2 separate regions of the Homo sapiens genome follow, and region 2 is linked to region 1. The links come from fine-mapping of genetic effects on gene expression. A gene starts in region 1. The other region holds a variant in brackets. All regions are shown on one strand. Distances are between the middles of the regions.

The links. PIP is the estimated chance that this variant, and not a neighbour inherited with it, causes the effect. A credible set is the group of variants that fine-mapping cannot tell apart.
Region 2: its variant is the best candidate, but not a certain one, in a credible set for the expression of NEK7 in whole blood (TOPMed, PIP 0.56).

The regions. Positions count from the first base shown.
Region 1 is chr1:198,155,495-198,158,409 of GRCh38, reverse strand. NEK7 (NIMA related kinase 7) reads right to left here and starts at 1,412. Exons shown (of 10, transcript NM_133494.3): 1 at 1,134-1,412. RefSeq lists enhancers at 687-736, 2,167-2,226 and a silencer at 977-1,576.
Region 2 is chr1:198,578,095-198,581,009 of GRCh38, reverse strand. No RefSeq gene overlaps it. Among named protein-coding and RNA genes, the nearest start is that of ATP6V1G3, 39 kb to the right of the region's middle. The variant G/T (reference allele first, on the strand shown) is at 1,405.

The DNA of each region.
Region 1 (2,915 bases):
GGAGGAGGAACTAGAAACAGTGGTTCCCATTATGATGGGTACATTAGGCTCTACAAACTATGGAAATGTGGTGTTTTCAATTGCATCCTTGAGCTCAGTAACCTCAAAGGAGAATAATCATTTTATTTCTGTGTATTTCTGATTTTCAGTTCAGTCACCAGAATTGCGCAAGGACAGTAACATGTATCTTACTGTAAACTAAGTATATTTTTTAGCATTTCTCCCCAGTGAGGACTACAGCAAGGTGAGAACACGATACATCATCTCTCCGCGACCCCAGTACGCTCCCAGTGCAAGACTAAATAGAGGATGCTGCGGTTTTAGGAGTGAAGGCCTACAGTGTAACAGAGGCAACAGAAGTTCTTTAGCTCTCAAGGCAGCATCCTCTAGGTTGTGCTCGCTTCCTTACACTGTTCTGCGGTCATACGGTCTTGTCACTTTTCTCTGTTTTCCTTTGGCTACCCTTCTCTGACTTTGGCCTCAGTTTTCAATTTCTTTTCCATTGCCACCATCACCAGCAATGTTCGCTATTGCCTCGCAATCCCTCTCTCCGACATTTTGTAATCCCGAGTCTCTCCCAAGTTCATTCTCCGACAGACCTCTCACGCTCCCTGTACTTCTGAAGCCACTTCGGATTCTCCCCTATCTGCCGGCTCCCACCACCCACTCTCTCCCAGCGCACTTCACTTTCCTAAGTCGGGCTGCTGCCGAATCCTGACAGACGGACTTCACCAATCCGCGAGAGATAAATAACCGACGTCGCCAATGAGCATCCGCCGGAAGGCGGGACTTCGCTTAAGTTCCTCGGGTCCCGAAACCAAAGACCTGTTGCCGCCGCCGCCGTGGCCACGGAGTTTCTTAGTTACCGCGGCGCCCTTGGCGGCCTCGGGCCTCTAGAGCCGGGGCCAGGTATGAAGTTTCCTGCCGCCCCCTCCCACCGCTGCCAACGAACAAGACCGAAACCCCCATCCGCCTCGAGCGCAGCGCGCCCCGCCCCACCTACCCCGAGCGAGGGTATCCCGGAGGCCGCCCCGCGCGGTCCCGACCTCCCTCTCCCGGCCCGACTCCCGCAGGCGGCCCCTCCCGGCAGGAGCTGCCCGGTCCGGGCGCCTGAACCCTGGGCAGCGACTCACCAGGAAGTTGGGAGTTTTCCGTTCTCCCGCCCGCGAGAGACCTTGGGCGGGCGGGTGGCTCGGCGCGGCGCCGCCGTCGGAAAGCGCGCTGGGCCGGGGGCTGAGGCTGCGAGGCCCGGAGCCTGTCGGCCACCTCCCGCCGCGCCGCCCCGGCGGACGCTGCAGGCGCGGGGCACCCACCCTGCGCACTGCGAGGCGCGTCCGGAGTGCGAGCCTAGCGGCGGCCCATCCTCCCGCGACTCCCGATCCTCCTCCTGCTGCCGCCGCTGTCAGGAGTGTAAACATCCCGGCATCCCCGAGGAGAGGGGCGGGGCGGGCGCCGGCCCCACCCCGCGTCGTGAGTCCAGGCCGGCTGCCCGATGGAGGCTTCCCGCCTGCGTCCCCGGCGCTCCCTGGAGCTGGGGGAGCCTCGGCGGTTTCCCTACTGGAGCCGAAGTCGCTCTGGAGGAGCCCCTCCTGGCCCCTCTCTTCCGGTTGTCAGGCCTAGCGTGGTGCGGGGCACCGCGTCCGGTCCCCTGAGCCCTCTTCCCCGGCTGCTTTTTAAGAACCCAGGGTCGGCTGCTTTTTAAGAACTTGTTTTTTCTTCATTTATATGTAAGTGCCCCCACTTGCAAGCGGTGAACCGACTTACTGATGTTCCCTTCTGGACCACAGCGTTTGTGATCCCATCTTCTTTTACCAGGTGATTTAAACTACCTCTGTGTTTAATGTGGAGTGCAGGGAAATGAGAAAAAAAAAAAAAGGCGTTTTCCTGAGTCTGGCTAAGCAAACGTTGCATGAAAGTGTCCCAGCATAGAGGACAGGGGCTTCAACAACATTCCAGAAGGTAAACTCCCTGGTGTGGTACGGAGGATCTTTGAAATAAATATGTGCAAAATCACCCAGAACCCTAGTACACGAAACTGCAAAAGGAATGCTTTGACACCAGCAGCTTCACGACTTAAGTTAACAGGGCATGAACTACTCGAGGAGACGGCTAGGAGGCAGTATGGAGTCGGCCATACCTTAATTGTCGTCTCAACTCAGTGATTAATTTTGTGACCTGGCTGCAAGTTATTTAACCTCTCCAAGTCTCAGTAACTCTCTGTAAAAGGAGATTAGTTGTAATACCAACCTCTAGGACCATAGTTAGAATTAAGTGAGATAAAGCAAAGTGCTTAACCACAAAGCTTGGCATATAAGACGTGCTCATTAAATTGTTGCTGTTGTTCATAGGTCTCTCACTAGTTTAACTTCCCTGACAAAAAGATTAGAGCCAAGAATGAGTAGATTATACCTCAAACATTTAAAATGTTAAAGCCATGAAATTAAGATCTGGAAAGTTTATTTTTAAAAAGAAAAATGGCCGGGCGCAGTGGCTCATGGCTGTAAGCCTAGCATTTTGGGAGGCCAAGTGGGGGGGGGGGTGATCACCTGAGGTCAGGAGTTCGAGACCAGCCTGGCCAACATGGCGAAACCCTGTCTCTACTAAAAATACAAAAACTAGCCGAGCGTGGTGGCAGGAGTCTATAATCCCAGCTACTGGGGAGGCTGAGGCAAAAGAATCGCTTGAACCCGAGGCGGGGAGGAGGTTGCAGTGAGCAGAGATCGCGTTACTTCACTCCAGCGTGGGTGAAAGAGCGAAAATCCGTCTCAAAAAAATAAATAAATAAATGAAAACGTTCACGATCTCAAAAGGAGGCCTTGATTCATGTGGCTCAACAAATATTCATAAATGGGCTAGGCAATGTTCTAAGGAATGAGGATACAACAGCTCACCGAGATATACAGTGCCTGCTGTCA
Region 2 (2,915 bases), 420 kb before region 1:
TGAATATAAATGGCCTAAATGCTCCACTTAAAAGATACAGAATGGCTGGGTGCGGTGGCTCACACCTGTAATCCCAGCACTTTGGGAGGCCAAGGCAGGCGGATCACCAGGTCAGGGATCGAGACCATCCTGGCCAACATGGTGAAACCCTGTCTCTACTAAAAATAAAAAAAAAAATTGGCCAGGCGTGGTGGCAGGCACCTGTAGTCCCAGCTACTTGGGAGGCTGAGGCAGGAAAATGGCATGAACCCAGGAGGTGGAGCTTGCACTGAGCCGAGATTGCCCCACTGCACTCCAGCCTGGGTGACAGAGCGAGTCTCCATCTCAAAAAAAAAATATCTATATCTATATCTATATATACACACACACACACACATATATATATACAGAATGGTAGAATGGGTAAGAATTCACCAATCGAGTTTCTGCTGTCTTCAGGAGACTCATCTAACATATAAGAACTCACATGAACTTAAAGTAAAGGGGTAGAAAAAGATATTTCATGCAAATAAACACCAAAAACAATCAGGAGTAGCTATTCTTATATCAGACAAAACAAACTTTAAAGCAACAGCAGTTAAAAAAGACAGAGAGGGGCTGGGTGCAGTGGCTCATGCCTGTAATCCCAGCACTTCGGGAGGCCAAGGCTGGCGGATCACCTGAAGTCAGGAGTTCAAGACCAGCCTGGCCAACATGGTGAAACCCTGTCTCTACTAAAAATACAAAAATTAGCTGGGCATGGTGGTGGGTGCCTGTAATCCCAGATACTCAGGAGGCTGAGGCAGGAGAATTGCTTGAACCCAGCTGGCGGAGGTTGCAGTGAGCTGAGATCACACCGCTGCACTCCAGCCTAGGGGACAGAGCAAGACTCTGTCTCAAAAAAAAAAAAAAAAAAAAAAAGCAATTTTTAACAATATTAACACTGGGCTCTGGGTGATAATGATGTGTCAATGTAGGTTTATCATTTGTAACAAATATATTGGTCTGGGAAATCTCCATACCTCCTGTACAATTTTGCTATGAATCTAAACCGGCTCTAAAAATAAAGTCTATAAAAATAATTTTTAAAAATAGAAAAAAGGTTAATATAATAAACTTTATGTTATGCATATTTTATCTGAATAAAAAAATGGGAAAAAATTATCCCCAAAAAAGAAAACTTTAGGTCCACATAGTTTTGCTGGTAAATTCTATGAAATGTTTAAGGAAAAATTCATACCAATTCTAAAAAAACTAGTCCAAATAATTGAAGAAATTATTCCTCACTTTCTATTAGATACAAAATCTGGAAAAAGACGTTAAAAAAAAAGAAAAGAACAGAGCAATATCCTTCATGAAAATAGATACAAAAATATTAAATAAAATTTAGCAAATTGAATCCAAATCAAGTTTTGTCCCAGAAAT[G/T]CAAGATTTGTTTAACATTTAAAAATTGATAAATGTAATTTATCATGGTAAAAAACTAAAAAAGAAAATCTATTATGATCTTCTCGGTTGATACAGAGGGAAGCATCTGACAAAATCCAACATTTATTCCTGATAAAACTCTCAGCACACTAGGAATAGAAGGGAATTTCCTTAACCTAATAATCATCACCTATGGAAATTCTATGGCTAATATTATTTTCAGTAGTGAAAACTGAATGCTTTCCCCTTAAAAAGGGGAATGAGATAATGATGTCTACTTTTATCTCTTCCTTTCAACATTGTGCAAGATATTTTAGCTACTAAGCCAAGAGTAGTTATACAAAACACATCCTGATTGGTAAGAGAAAAGTACAATTGTCTTTATCTGATGGCAGTGTGATCACTTCTGTAAAAACTTCAATGAACAATAAGCTAATAAAAAAAGCTAAGTGAGTTAGCAAGGCTGCAGAATAAAAGATCAATATAAAAATTCAATTGTATTTCTAACTGTTCCCAATGAACGTTACAAATTGAAATTTTTAAAACTATGAAAATACCGTCAATTAATACCAACTACTTACATATGAGTCTGACAAAAGATGCTCAAGCCATGCAAACTGAAAACTGTAAAATATTACTGAGAAAAATTAAAGAAAACCTAAATAAGTACAGAACTGTTTCTGTTCATGGATGAGGAGACTCAATATTTTGTAATGCAGATATGCTGCAAATTAATATATAGATTCAATGTATTCCCAGTCAAAATTTCATCAAGCTTTTATGTACAAATTGATAAGCTGATTCTAAAATTTGCTGGAAATTTAAGGGACCTAGAAAAGCCAAAGCAATTTTATAAAAGAAAAACAAAGAGGATTAGCTCTACCTAACTTCGAGACTAAGGTTAAAGTAATAAAGACAGTGTGGTATTGGTATTAAGATAGACAAATAGGCTGGGCGCGGTGGCTCACTCCTGTAATCCCAGCATTTTGGGAGGCCGAGGCTGGCAGATCACAAGGTCAGGAGATCGAGACCATCCTGGCTAACACGGTGAAACCTGTCTCTACTAAAAAAAAAAAAAAAAAAATACAAAAAATTAGCCAGGTGTGGTGATGGGTGCCTGTAGTCCCAGCTTCTTGGGAGGCTGAGGCAGGAGAATGGTGTGAACCTGGGAGGCGGAGCTTGTAGTGAGCCGAGATCGCGCCACTGCACTCCAGCCTGGGCAACAGAGCAAGACTCCATCAAAAAAAAAAAAAAATAGACAAATAGATCAATGGACCAAACCAGAGTCCAGAAACAGGCCCATACATATAGAGACAACTGATTTTTTGGCAACAGTGAAAAGGCAATTCAGTGGAGAAAAGATAGTCTTTTGACAAATGGTGCTAGAACAATTGGATAATGGCATGCAAAATATAAACTTTGGTTCGCACCTCACATCATATACAAAAATTAGCTAAAAATTGATCCTAGACCTAAATGCAAAACCAAAAGCATTAACACTTGTAAAACAC